3 linked regions of the Homo sapiens genome follow. The protein of the gene in region 1 purifies or fractionates together with the protein of each later gene. This does not show direct contact. Each region holds a gene or a part of one and is shown in the gene's direction. Other genes may lie near its edges.

Region 1 (5,259 bases):
GAGACTGCTTAATTGGGTTAGTGAAAGAGTAAATAACAGGGAAGGGACAAAGGTTAGGGAATGATATATCTACCTTAATTACTGACTTATAACTAACACTAGTAATAATCAGACTGTCATTCTGAAGAAAACTGTCTGAAAACCCCTCAAATGATATAAATACACTTTTATGTTTTGAATCCTTCTTTAGCTCCAGTGATCTTAAGTATTAAATGAAAAGTTAATTGAATTTACCTTCAGAAATTGAAATAAACAAAGATGCTGTTGAACCTCTCTTCCTTCTCTTAGGTATAATATTGAGCCCAGCCTATATTGCCCGTTTTTCTCTCTTGGAGCATGCATGGAAGGCCTGAATATTTTGCTTAACAGACTGTTGGGGATTTCATTATATGCAGAGCAGCCTGCAAAAGGAGAGGTGTGGAGCGAAGATGTCCGAAAACTGGTGAGCTCCTCCTGCTCAGCCTGCAGTTGCAGGCATTTACCTTTCGGTTGGGCAGTTGAGTCAACAGCAGTTTCAGGTTTACATCAACTTTGCCCTGACTGAGTGTGTCCCCTGCCTTATTTCTGCTTCACAAAAAAAATCCAAATTGCACTTCTGATTTAAGACACTGTATAAAGGATCCAAACATAAAACAGCAGAGTTTTCTAAAAAAGTTTTTTGGAACTTGATAGAAGGTTGAATATATATGCACCTTCATATATCCACAAATTCTATTTATAGGAAAATTGTCCTTTACTTTGTATATACCTTCATAGCTGTGTGTCCGTTTTGGTTAATTCCCAAATCCATTGGATAAGTGACCTTTTTTCTCTCCAACCCCCATCCCATGTTGTAGGGGCTTATATTTGCATCAGATATTAATTTACGTCCGTGTTCTGATTTATTTAACTTCTTTGATAATAACTTCAAACCTAGCAATCATCTTTCTCCTGTGAAGGCCCACTTTATATGAGGCATGAATATTTTAAATTTTTCCTCATAGGATTTGAGGCTTTGTTGACCTGTGTGTGTCACTAAGGCTTTGTATTGTTTTGTTGTTTGATTTTTGCTAGCATGCTTACCACACTGCTTTCTTCACTATATTTTAAGAAATGTAAACAGTCTCATTGTCTCTCGGCCACGTCTTGTGAGTGGAGAGTAGGTGTGGTGGTGGGATTGAAAGGAGAGTCAGGGTGGGAGGACGTTCATCACTGCATTGATTTACTTCACTATCTGTATTACAAACTTCCAAAAAAGATAGAGATTGATAAAATGCTGAGATATAATAAAAAGAAAAATTTATAAGAGGAGACTGAGAGGACAAAATGCGGGTGATGAAGGGTTTCCCCAGAACTGCAGAATGTGCACTCCACCGGGGTCCAGCACTGTTGTCAGTTGCATTCACTTCTGTATCCTCAGTGTCTTGAAGAGTTCCTGGCACCAAGTAGGTGCTTAACAGATGTTTGATGAACAATAAATATATACTTGCAGGTAGTTTTAAAGCACAAAATCGGGGTTCTCTTTGATGGAATCATTAAATTCTGAAAGAACAAAGAAGGCAAGATGGAGAGTAGTGATTGAGTCTCTCCTATAAGCTATGTCTCTTGGAGAGGGGATAGATAGTAATATTGCTGATTTTTAACTCAAGCTGGGAGCTGCATTGTGGTGTTTTCAAATTCAAGGGTTATAATTTGCTTGGGCGTATATCACGACATTCCAGGATTTGAAGGAAAAATAATTTGCTCCTAAAATTGTCCAGCCAGCACTTCTTCCCAGCTCTTGTGGGTGGTTAGTAAAGGTATTGTAGAGGATAGGCAGTCAGGACAAAAGGCCCTCATGAGGAGGATTTCCTGTCCTGGACACAGAATTCCAAAACCAAAATCATTCAAGAGATGGAGCAGAAGAGGATGCGGGGAAAAGAGAATCTATCTCGAGATAATGTGGGGTGTAGAATGTAATTAAAATGTCTATATGTGTGGCTATGGATGTTTAATATACAGATTCTTGTGTTAGGGATTTTAGAGAATCAGATGGCCTCATTTACCACCAAATTTAAATTTTTTTTTCTAGGCTGTTGTTCATGAATCTGAAGGATTGTTGGGGTACATTTACTGTGATTTTTTTCAGCGAGCAGACAAACCACATCAGGTGATCCTTTCTTTATAAACTGGTCTCTCTAGAACCGATCGGCATTTCATTTGTATTGATGTGAACTTTGTATCATTTTTTAAATTCCATGACATTTAAAAGTTACTAATGATGGTTACCAAATATATACATTTGAAATTAAGATAGAATTTTAAAATTAAAAAGTTTATGGAAATAATTACATCAGTCTATATTTGTCACTTTTATCTGGGTCATGGTATTAATTATAGTAACAATGACAACTGACATTTTATGAATCCTTATTTGTGCCAAACAGTGCACTGAGCCCGTTATACACATCAGCCTTTTAATGTTCGCCTCACCCTTTTGACTAGTTACTCACATTATGAGGAAACTGAAGCCATAGAGGTTAAGCTACTTGGCCAGAAGTGCTAGGACTTGAAGGCATACATCCTGAGCAGATCCCCAACTTTTAACTCTTTTCCATACTCGACAATGAACCTATTCTAAAACTGCGGAAGATACTCCATGTGGAAACCTTACCAACCACCAAGTAGCTCCTTATGTGGAAGACTTGAGGCAGCTCATCTCCTTTTCTTTAGCATTGGCCGACTTTGACAGCCAGTCAGCTTTAGCAGTTTCATGTAGCTTGATGGGAAATGTCAAGAGTTTAGGTTATAAGTTATAACAGAAATAATGTACCTTATGTTTGAATAGTGATTCACAATTTCCAAAGCACAGATTTTAACAGATGTGAGCTTATGAATTCTGGACAGCCACTGTGGGATTTGACAAGGAAGCATTTTAGAGATGAGGCTTGCAGAAGCAAATTATTTTCCGAGATGATTTGTCTAGTAGGTGTGAAAGGTAGGAACAGGGTGCAGGTCACCAGACTCTGAGGCCAGTGTTCTTCCTCTTTGCTTAAATGGGTGGGTGGTGGAGACTCAACTTTAGTGATTAGGAGCCCTGGCTCCTAATAGTCAGCCTGGGTTCAGATCCAAGGTGTGGCAGTTCTAGCTAGGTGTCCTTGGACATGTTATTTAATAATCCTAAGACTAGTTTTAGTTTTATCATCTGAAAAGTGAGATACCTGCTACATAGGGTTGTTGTGGAGAATAAGTGATACAGTGTATGTGAGTCTCAGTGTAGTGCCTGTTTCAGAGTAAGTTATTCTGGCTCCGGATCCCTTGCTTTACACTAGTTTAGATCCCATCTCGTTCAAGTGATAAAAGTCAAGAGAGGCTGGGCGCGGTGGCTCATGCCTGTAATCCCAGAACTTTAGGAGGCTGAGGCTGGCAGATCACTTCAGTCCAGGAGTTCAAGACCAGCCCTGGCAACATAGTAAGACTCCATCTGTACAAAAAAAAATCTAAAAATTTAGCTGGGTGTGGTGGAGCACACCTGTAGTCCCAGCCAATCAGTAGGCCAAAGCAGGAGGATGGCTTGAGCCCAGGAGGTCCAGGCTGCAGTGAACTGCGATCACAACACTGCACTCCAGCCTGGGCAACAGAGCAAGACCCTATCTTAAAAAAAGAAAAAAAAATAGCCAAGAGACATGGAAAGTACCTACTAGTTCATTATCTGACACATAGTAGGGACTCAGAATAAATGTTAGTGTCCCTTCGTAAGTTCTTTGCTGACTTTGTTTCCAGCTTCTGGCACAGCATCATTTCAATGCATGTTTTGGGACCAAAGTAATGAGTTAATCCATAGAAACTGAATGTGTTCTTGATGTTTTAAAAAATTAAAATTTTAGCAGAATAAAAAATGTCAAGAAAAGGTGTATATATGTAAATAGATAGAATAAGAATATAATTAAGTTAAAGTTTGCACTCACACATTTTTGGTGAAATTTTATATTCATTAAGACTGTTTTACTCTTCACATTACCAAATACTTTCTTTTCCTTTTATGTTTTCTGATTCTTAAAGGATTGCCATTTCACTATCCGTGGAGGCAGACTAAAGGAAGATGGAGACTATCAACTCCCAGTTGTAGTTCTTATGCTGAATCTTCCCCGTTCCTCAAGGAGTTCTCCAACTTTGCTAACTCCTAGCATGATGGAAAATCTTTTCCATGAAATGGGACATGCCATGCATTCAATGCTAGGACGTACTCGTTACCAACACGTCACTGGTGAGCCATGAGGAGGGCTTTTATTTACTACAGTCCTTTACAAACATACATTTTCTTTGAATTGGGAAAGGGGCTTTTTATTTGGAAAATGTGATCATTTTACCGTGTCCTGTGGTCTTTATCTCAGATTGCCTCATCCTGCCCTCCCCATGGTTGTGCAGCCTGATCTTCCATGCTTTTTTCCATGCTTGCTAACAGCTTTCACCAGGGAATAATCTCAGTTGTCTTTCAAGTTTGTCCCTTTTTACATTTTACAGTGTTTTATATTGAATTTAAGTTTGTGGCTATGTGTGTGTGAATAAAAACGTATCTCCTTAATACCTCCCACAGAGTTAATAAGTAAGTGAATGAATGGTCTCTCTTTATATTCAAAATCAGAGAAGAAAATAAAGCATGCTTAAAAAGTATGATGAAGTCCTTTTAATTTTTCATATACTTTCCCCTGTATAAAATCATAGTTCTGCTTTGTAGTTTTTATGCTGCTATGTGGCTATATTTTGTGATATTACAGACTTCCTTCTTCATTGTCTTATCCTTAAGTCTTAAGCTCCCTATCACATATGGTCAGCATTAGACCACTAGTGAATTGTTGGCATCCAGCATTTGTTAACTAACTTTACACACAGTATTTTGGACAAGGAGAAGGTATTGAAAAGACTGTAGGTGGGCTGAACACAATCGTTAAATGTCATCTAAATTTCTTACAGGATTTGTTACTTTAAGTAATTTTGAGTTTAAAATATTTCTTTTCCTCACTGAGAATTGACTTTGTTACAAAAAGCAATAAATGGATAAAATAAAGTACTTGTAAAACAAAGGAAGGATAAAAGTATTAGGTAATGGAATTTAGTGAATTAAATACAAACGCTATATTAATATTAGAAATGTTTTAATCTGTTTCATGTATAGCCAGCATAGCTGAAGACAGGTTTGTTTGCAAAAGGTGTGAGCCATGGCTTTATAAGGTGTTTTAGCAGCTGTGCAAATATTTTGTTTTAATTTTGATATAAAGGAAAATATATAGGATTATAATA
Region 2 (4,651 bases), on another chromosome or scaffold:
TCTTGCTGTGTTGCCCATGTTCGTCTCAAACTTCAGGCCTCAAGCAGTCCTCCCGCCTCAGTCTTCAAAAATGCTAAGATTATAGGCGTGAGCTACTGTGCCCTGCCTGTTCATTTATATTTATTTGCCAGGTACATTTTTTTTTATATACGATTGTGTTATACTTGGGAGATTGGCTACAGGACTCCCCTGCATATACCAAAATCTGTGCATACTCAGGTTCATCAGTCTGCACTGCAGAACCATCGTATATGGAAAGTAGGCCTTCCATATATGATTTTTGCATCCCGTGAATATTGTATTTTTGATCTGCATTTGGTTGAAAAAAATCCACGTGCAAGTGGACCCACACGGTTCAAACCCATGATGTTCAAGGATTAACTATACTTTAACATTTTGTTTATCCTCTCATATTTATGTTTTTAGTATGTCCCTTGTAAATTGAATACAACTGGACTTCATTTAGTCCAAATATTCTGCCTTTTAGCTGATAAGTTCAGTCTGTTTACATTTATTACCATTACTGACATATTTGTACTTATTTCTACCATCTTATTATGTGTTTTCTGTTTACTCTGCTGTTTTCTCTGCTGCCTTTTTCCTTATGACCTTTCCTTCTGAAAAGTTTGAAAAACTATTCTTTATTCCCTTTTTCCTTCTGATTACCCTTAAATTTTTAACATGCGTCTTTGGCTTTGCACAGAATGTTAAAATCAGTATGTTTGCATTCTTCTGAATAATAAGGGACCTTGGAAAACTTTTAACTCTAGTACCTTCCACTAATCTTAAACGTTTTTGACCAGTGTTTTACTCCCATGGTTTTTTAGTCACCCAGATCAGTCTTTATTATTGGTGTTGTTGCATTTAATTTTTGTACCAACTTCCATTGTTTTCTAATCCTCAGAGACTGTGAACTCCTTAATTAAGCTCGTTTTCTATTTTTCTTCAGATTTTCAAAAGAAACAGCCAGACGATGATTCCGCTCCAAGTACAAGTAACAGCCAATCAGATTTGTTTTCCGAAGAGACCACCAGTGACAACAACAATACCTCGATAACCACGCCAACTCTTAGTCCCAGCCAGCAGCCGCTTCCGACAGAACTGAATGTAACTTCACCGAGTAAAGAGGAGTGTAAGTGTCTGGCTTCTGAGGGGTGGTAGAGAGAGCAGCTTAAGAACTTTAGATGAGCATCTTGGTAATGCCTGACCCCAGAAAAAACAGCACTTCTTTTAATTCAAGATAAGTGTCCACATACAAGGCCCAAGCTCAGCAAGTTAGAGAATAAGTTTCAGCCATTCCTGAAGAAATAGCCTTTTATACCGTCAAAGTACATGAAGTTTGAACCAGTCTAGAGAGCAGTGGCTCTCACCTATGTCTGCACATTAGAATCCACTGGGGGTTTTTAAAACAATTTTAATCTTTAGCACCATTCCCTCGTTCTCATTTAATTGATCTGGAGGGAGGCCCAGGGATCTGTTATTTTTAACTCCGCAGAGGATTTCTAATATGCAGCAAGGGACCAGTAAGGGATTCTAACCCTAAAACCCTAATTTAGGAGCCTTAGATTGAAGCTTTACCTCTGTCACTAACTGGGCCTTGACTGTTTCTAAGCATTTAACTGAGATAGCACTATACTTCATAGAACATAGGATGTTTAAAGGAAGGAGGAGATGGTATTACTCTTCTGTAAGTCTTCAGTGTTGGAATGCTATTATGTAGGTTAGAAGTTCACTGTCTACTTAATTTCTTTTTTTTTTTTTTAGATACTCACTCTGTTGCCCAGGCTGGAGTGCGGTTGTACCATCTCAGCTGACTGCAACCTCTACCTCCTGGGTTCAAGTGATTCTCCTGCCTCAGCCTCCTGAGTAGCTGGCATTACAGGTGCCTGCCACCATGCCTGGCTAATTAGTAGAAACAGGATCTCACCATGTTGGCCAAGCTGGTCTCGAACTCCTGACCTCAAATGATCTAACCACCTTGGTCTCCCAAAGTACTGGGATTACAGGCATGAGCCACCATGCCCAGCCCATTGTCTGCTTAATTTTTATAATGTCATAATATACATCTCTTTCCCTCCATCCCCCATCCCTGGCGGTATGTGAGATATACATCTCTTTTAGGGCACAAATATAGTTGATAGTATTTGTTGAAAATTATAGGGATATTATGACATAGTAGTTTTTGCCTTTTAAAAGCTCTACTTGGCCAAGCCAGGAGGATTGCTTGAGGCCAGGAATTTGAGACCAGCCTAGACAACATGGTGAGACTCTTGTCTCTACCAAAAAAAAAAAAAAATTAGCCAGGCGTGGTGGTGTGTGTTTATGGTCCCAGCTACTTGGGAAGCTGAGGCAGGAGGATCTCTTGAGCCCAGGAGTTCAGGGTTACAGTGGACTGTGGTCTTAACCATTACACTGCAGCCTTGTGAGACCTGGCCTTTTTTTTCTTTGAAAGCTAAGTTGAAATTTAGTATTTCAAGTTTCATGAATATCTAGAAACACAGTAGGTTAGAATGTTCTGTGTTCTGTATACTAACTTTGGAAAGGTTAGCAGAAAACAAATATTTATCTAAATCTGTCATAAACTGCTATATTTGGTAATATCGAGAATATAAAATAAGCAAGGTCATAGTCTTTGTCCTCAAAGAATTTGAAGGGGAAATTAAATATATTTGTTGTAGTTTATCAGTGGTTATCAACCAAGAGTGATCTCCCACCCCACAGCCCCAGAACATTTGATAATGTCTGGAGACCAGGAATGCTGCTAAATGTCCTGCATCACATAGGACAGTCCTCTGCAACAAAAAATCATTCAGCTCACGATACCAGTAATGATGAGCTTGACAAACCCTGATACATGTTTGCATACACCCATGTTGGTCCTTATGTATTAAAGACAGCAACTGTTGAAGGGCATTGACCTACTGAGGAAGTGGTGGTAAAGATGGATAGAAGGTGGTGAAGAGACATACTAGACAGAGTAGAATGAGCTGTGGAAGGAAAGCTGCATGGAGTTTCTCAATGGCAAATGACTGTCTTAGGGCCATTTGTGGAAGAGAATGAAAGACAAGGCTGGAAGGGTAAGTTGTGGCCAAGACATAGAGGCTAAATGTCCAGCTAAGCTATTTGGACTTGAGACAGTAGCCATGTTTTTGAGCAGAGGAGGTGATATTATTACAGTTCTTTGGAGAAGTAACCTTGGTTGTATTGAAAATGGAAAGGATTAAACAGGAATAACATTGCAAAGAAAGAATTTTTTAAATATTATAACTTATTGAATAGAGGCCAAGGTGTAGAAATCATATAAGAGGAGAAAAAAAAAAACGGTGAAAATGGTAGTGGTCATGCTAAGGCAGTAGATTTTGTTTTGTTTTAAAAAATCTTTTCAAGATCATGTACTTACTGAGGAGTTGATGACAGCTGTGGCCTCTTGTCCTAGAAAAATATACACCATCCATTTATACCCAATTTTGCATAAAATTTCTCTACAGCTTATTATGGCCCTTGGGTTAAGAACTCCTGGTCTAAGGAAAAAGTTGGTCAGGATCTCATCTGATGGAAACTGGATTGGATTCGTGCATACCAGGATCGGGCCACCACAAATCAATTCAAGCCACCAAAATGCATGTGAGGCTGAGATAACAGTAGCTACCATTTATTGAGCACTTTGTATATGAGACATTATTCTACATGCATATTTTCTCATTGTTTTTCGTGATAACCCAATGAGGTAGATAGTGTCATTATACTCATTCCATAGATGAGGAATTAGACACAAAAAGATTAAGTAATTTGCCTGTGGTCACAAACGAGTAGATACCAGAACCAGGATTCAAATTTAGGCATTTGGCTTCAGAGTTCATACTTTTAATCAGTTAATTCACAATGTGAAATACAACTGTCATAGAGAATAATATTTGTGTGGGCAAGAGGAATGCTTTCTCTCCCTGTCATTAAGATATGTGGAAATCCACATCATAACCAAGAGTTACTTGCCAGTTTAGGCCACTGTAGACTGCTATGGGCTTTTTTTTTTTTTTTTTTTTAATATGAATACCTTCAGCCTGATTAAAGATGTCTAGTTCTACTAGCTTCGTTTCCTTTCTCTCTCTTCTTGGTGACATCATTGCTTTGAACCATTGTATGTTTCTCTTAGACTTATACTCTCTGAAGCTAATCTCTTTCCTAATTCCTCAAGTTTCTACAGATCTAGGGAAATGAGATTTGCCAGTTGGAGATATGGTGATGACTTAAGTTTGTATTGTGTGCAACTGGGCAGGTTGAGTTGGAGCTCAGAGGAGTGAAGTCAAGATTGGCTTCATCCACATGGAGATGATAGTTTAAGCCATAGGTGTTAAGTGAGGTTGCCAAGAGTGAGAGCAAAGAAAAGCAGGGAGGGCTGGGCACATGGCTCACGCCTGTAATCCCAGCATTTTGGGAGGCCGATGCGAGCAGATCACAAGGTGAAGAGATCAAGACCATCCTGGCCAACCTGGTGAAACCCCGTCTCTACAAAAATACAAAAATTAGCCGAGCATGGTAGTGCGCACCTGTAGTCCCAGCTACTCGGGAGGCTGAGGCAGGGGAATCGCTTGAACCCGGGAGGTGAGGTTGCAGTGAGCCGAGATCACTCCACTGCACTCCAGCCTGGCGA
Region 3 (4,651 bases), on another chromosome or scaffold:
TTTAAATCTTTCCAATAGTACCATGCCATAATGGCTGTGAAATACCATTTTATAGATGAGGCAGCTGTAATGTTGACACAAGATACCAAGAAAGTTTACATAAGGTGCCAAACTCTCAGATCTAATAAGTGGGATAGAATTCAAACTCTGATTGACTTGGCTTCAAAGCCAAAAGTGTCAGGCCACCTCAGACCATTTTACCTGATAGGACTTATGTGACATTCTGTTGTGTGAGATCTGTGATTTGGAGCCTACTTTATATCTGATCTCTACTTAACAGGTGAACAGGTGTTTTTCTTCTGTGTACATGCAAACTTCCCAGTGCAGGTAACCTAAACTACAGTTGATATTAGTGTAGATTAATCAAGCCTTTAATAGTTTTTTCTTTTTTTTATCTTAAATTTTTTTGGCCCAGCTTTTTTTTTTTTTTTTTTTTTTTTTAATTTTTTGAGACGGAGTCTCGCTCTTGTCAGCCAGGCTGGAGTGCAATGTCATGATCTCGGCTCACTGCAACCTCTGCCTCCCAGGTTCAAGCAATTCTCCTGCCTCAGCCTCCCAAGTAGCTGGGATTACAGGCATGCGCCACCATGCCTGGCTAATTTTGTATTTTTAGTAGAGACAGGGTTTCACCGTGTTGGCCAGGCTGGTTTCAAACTCCTGACCTCAGATGATCCACACACATTGGCCTCCCAAAGTGCTGGGATTACAGGCATGAGCCACCATGCCTGGCCTGTTTGTTTTTAAATGATAATATGTGATGCCTGATATTTAGTAGTATGATTGGTGTAAGGCAATTAGTAATAAGAAAATGCAGTTTGTATGTAGTTTTCACTTATACTGAACAGAGTGAAATTAACCATCTCCTTTTTTATTTTCCTAGCTGACGAAGAATTTGATGAACTATGTTTTGAATTTGGTCTGGAGCTTGATGAAATTGTATGTATTGGATATTTGTCTATTTTTCAAAGATTGTGTGCATAAGCTTATTTTTCAGGGTTATACTGTATTTCATCTTTGTTACCTTATAGTTAGACTAAGGTGATAATGTTTGTGGGCCATGATTTCTGTGTTCAGAGGGCTAAGCTCCATGTCTGTCTGTTGCCTTGACTAAAATCTCAAAAGGAGTTCATGCCTTATTCCATCTACAATCACCTTGTTACCAGGCTCATGCTGTGGAAATGGATAGAATGTGTTAGATAACCCCAGTATGAAAGTAAGCTCCCTCCTTTGGCAAATTAATCACAGAAAGGGACCAAGAAGCAGTAGAAATGTTGCTTCAACCAGAGTTACCCTGCCTCCTTCACTTCCAGCGCCTCCTCCTTCAGCTCCTCTGCCCCCATAACCTTCCTCCGTGCCTCTTCAACCAGTACTAATGCATTACTATATTCATTGGTCTTGTAAAATGAACTAATATTTTTTAAGGACTTGCTTATAAAAATGAGGAAGCATTTTCTTTGACTTTTGATTGTATAATGATTACAATATTTAAAAAAATCAAGTCGGCTATACATTTTAATATTGTTAATAATGATTATCTATTAAAGACATACTTTAATTTGGTGGGGTTGGGGGTCTGAGTCCTTCCTCGCGGGGGCTTGATGGGTCCTGAGCATCCTCTGGCCGGGGTTTCTGATCCATCTGCTCCAGCATAAGTTCACAAAGTACAGTCCGCAGGCCAGCAGCATCATCTGGGAACTTAGGAAAAAACCAGCCCTACTGAACCAGAAACTGGGGATGTGGCCCAAGCAACCTTTTACCAAGCCCTCCAGGTGATTATAATGCAAGGAGAGACGAGGTTTTACCATGTTGGCCAGGCTGGTTCTCGAACTGCTGACCTCAAGTGATCCACTGCTTTGGCCTCCCAAAGTGCTGAGATTACAGGTGTGAGCCACCATGCCTGGCCCAATGTGCTTTATATAGTTTCACTCTGTTGCCCAGGCTGGAGTGCGACAGCGCGATCTTGGCTCACCACAACCTCCTCCTCTTGGGTTCAGGCGATTCTCCTGCCTCAGCCTCCTGAGTAGCTGGGATTACAGGAAGGAGTCCTTATCTTGGACCTGAGGCTGCTTTCTTGAAGAAAACTTGACTTTATTTCATTTAGTGGGAAGAGCAGCAGCCCAGCTAATAAGTTCTAATATGCAATAGGCTGCAGGCTGTGAAGTCTGAAGCTAAGGAGCTGAGGGCTTAACAAGTTTCTAGAAGCTGCCATCAACATGCCAAGTCAGTAAAACTGAAAGCTGGTCAGATTTCAAGGTCTGGGGAGGAATCCACTGCATAGTGGGTCTTGAGCTCTAGAGAGCTAGGCCTTGCTAAAATAAAAGAATTACCTTACCTACCATCTTTGTTCCAGGCTCCGTAGAATTTGTGACAGCCCTGGCTGACCTCCGAGCAGAGGCTAGCTGTCCCATCTGTCTGGACTACTTGAAAGACCCAGTGACCATCAGCTGTGGGCATAACTTCTGTCTCTCCTGCATCATTATGTCCTGGAAGGATCTAGATGATAGTTTCCCCTGCCCCTTTTGCCACTTGTGCTGTCCAGAAAGGAAATTTATAAGCAATCCCCAGCTGGGTAGTTTGACTGAAATTGCTAAGCAACTCCAGCTAAGAAGCAAGAGGAAGAGGCAGGAAGAGAAGCATGTGTGTAAGAAGCATAATCAGGTTTTGACTTTCTTCTCTCAGAAAGACCTAGAGCTTTTATGTCCAAGGTGCAGTTTGTCCACTGATCACCAGCATCGCTGTGTTTGGCCCATAAAGAAGGCTGCCTCCTATCAGGAAAAAACTGGAGCAATACAATGCACCGTGGAAGGAGAGAGTGGAACTAATTGAAAAAGTCATAACTATACAAACCAGAAAATCACTGGAACTGAAGAAAAAGGTAAAACATACGGCAGAAGAAGTCAAGTCTGAATTTGAGCAACTTAGGTTATTTCTGCAAAATGAGCAAGAGACTGTTTTTGGGCAATTACAAGATGACGAGATGGATATTTTAGCACAACTAAATGAAAGCCTAACAAAATTTTCAGATTATACCTCCTCATTAAAATATCTACTAAAGAAGATAGAGAGCATATATGTGAAGTCAGAACTGGAATTACTGGCTGATGTTAAGGATATCTATCACAGACATAAGAATTTAAAATTCCCTAAACCTTTTTTATTCAAATTAAAAGAATATGGTTACCATCTGTCTCCACAATATTGTGGCCAAAACAAAATTATCAAGCGATTTCAAGTAGATGTAATTCTAGATCCTGAAGCAGCACATCGTAAACTTATAGTCTCAGAAGATAGAAAAACTGTGCGATATGGAAATACAACACAAAACTTACCTCATAACCCAAGAAGATTTTATCTGCTCCCAGCTGTTCTGGGTTCTAAGGGATAAAATTGTGGCAGGCAGTACCGGGAAGTAGAAGTTAAAGACATGCCTGAATGGATTCTTGGTGTCTGTAGTGACTCTCCTCCCACAAGGAGGAAGAGTCAACCAATTTTAGTACAGGATGGATTATGGAGAATTTGGTAATCTAGTCGGAATAATTATATTGTATTGGGCCATAAGGAAATTATTCTGCTGCCAAAAGTAACACCTAGTAAGATTGGCATTTTTTTAGACTGTGAAATGAATGAGGTTTCCTTTTATAATTTGAATGATAGATCTCTTCTCTGTACTTTTAATGATGATTTTACAGGAGAACTTTGGCCTTATTTTTATACTGGAACTGACTCAAAACCTCTTAAAATTTCTACAGTAACAGATTCTGTATTTTCTTTCACCTAGTAGACATAACTGAGCCAGTTAATCTAGTTTTGGCCATTCTGTATTTTGTCCAGTTTTTCTCATAAAAAAACAATATTTTTTATCTCAATTTCAGCAACTTCCAAAAAATGTGATTATGGGACCTACTTTATAATAAATTATGGGGTCAATGACAAAGTACTTTAGAAATTCTATGGTAAAATACTTGAAAAATATATTACTGAAGGAACGTATTATGTAAGAAAATCTATTACTTTTGTAATTGCCAATAAAAGCCCAATTTTTTTCTCAAAAAAAAAAAAAGACATACTTTAATTTAAAAGATAATTTTCTGATAGTTAGTATTATTTTTTTCCTAAGCCTTCTATCTTCACCTATTCAGTGCTTTTATAACACTACCTTAGGTGTAAAGTTAAAAAATGTTCAGGCTAAAAAATTGTACATTATCTTACCTTATTTTTCCTGCTGCCTTACTAATGTTACAGAAAGATCATCTTTGTACTAATCTATTTGTATACTTGAGAAATTGGCTGAGATTTCTGTAGTTTATAAGTTGCTATTCGTAATTTTACTACACCTCAGAATTATGTTTGAAATTATGTGATATCTAAGAGTGTTGGACTGGATGTTAGATTATTTGAGTTCTAGTTCTAACATTTACTAGCTGTGTAACTATGGACAATTACTTTGCCTGTCTGAACTCTATAGTCCAGACGAGTCTCTCTGGGCCTCCTTTTCATTTGTGAAATAAGGGGTTTGGATTATATGATCTTTATGGTTTTCTTTTTTGACTCTGAAATTTATGTGATTTTAAATTTCTGTAAGATTATTGTCAGGTAGCACTGACAAATTCAGTCTTTACATATGGTCATTGTATGAGCTGAGATGCTGAAA

Evidence for each region. The genes of interacting proteins can lie anywhere in the genome.
Region 2: the proteins of MIPEP (region 1) and ZFAND3 fractionate together in Homo sapiens (co-fractionation; one large-scale study listed by BioGRID). This does not show direct contact.
Region 3: the proteins of MIPEP (region 1) and FARSB fractionate together in Homo sapiens (co-fractionation; one large-scale study listed by BioGRID). This does not show direct contact.

The regions. Positions count from the first base shown.
Region 1 is NC_000013.11:23,836,518-23,841,776, reverse strand, and holds part of MIPEP (mitochondrial intermediate peptidase), read left to right. Parts: intron 1-288; coding exon 289-442; intron 443-2,050; coding exon 2,051-2,128; intron 2,129-4,020; coding exon 4,021-4,225; intron 4,226-5,259. UniProt on the Homo sapiens protein: Cleaves proteins, imported into the mitochondrion, to their mature size.
Region 2 is NC_000006.12:38,060,644-38,065,294, forward strand, and holds part of ZFAND3 (AN1-type zinc finger protein 3), read left to right. Parts: intron 1-949; coding exon 950-1,132; intron 1,133-4,651.
Region 3 is NC_000002.12:222,645,025-222,649,675, reverse strand, and holds part of FARSB (phenylalanine--tRNA ligase beta subunit), read left to right. Parts: intron 1-880; coding exon 881-936; intron 937-1,550; exon of another isoform or gene 1,551-1,835; intron 1,836-2,679; exon of another isoform or gene 2,680-2,875; intron 2,876-3,329; exon of another isoform or gene 3,330-4,054; intron 4,055-4,651.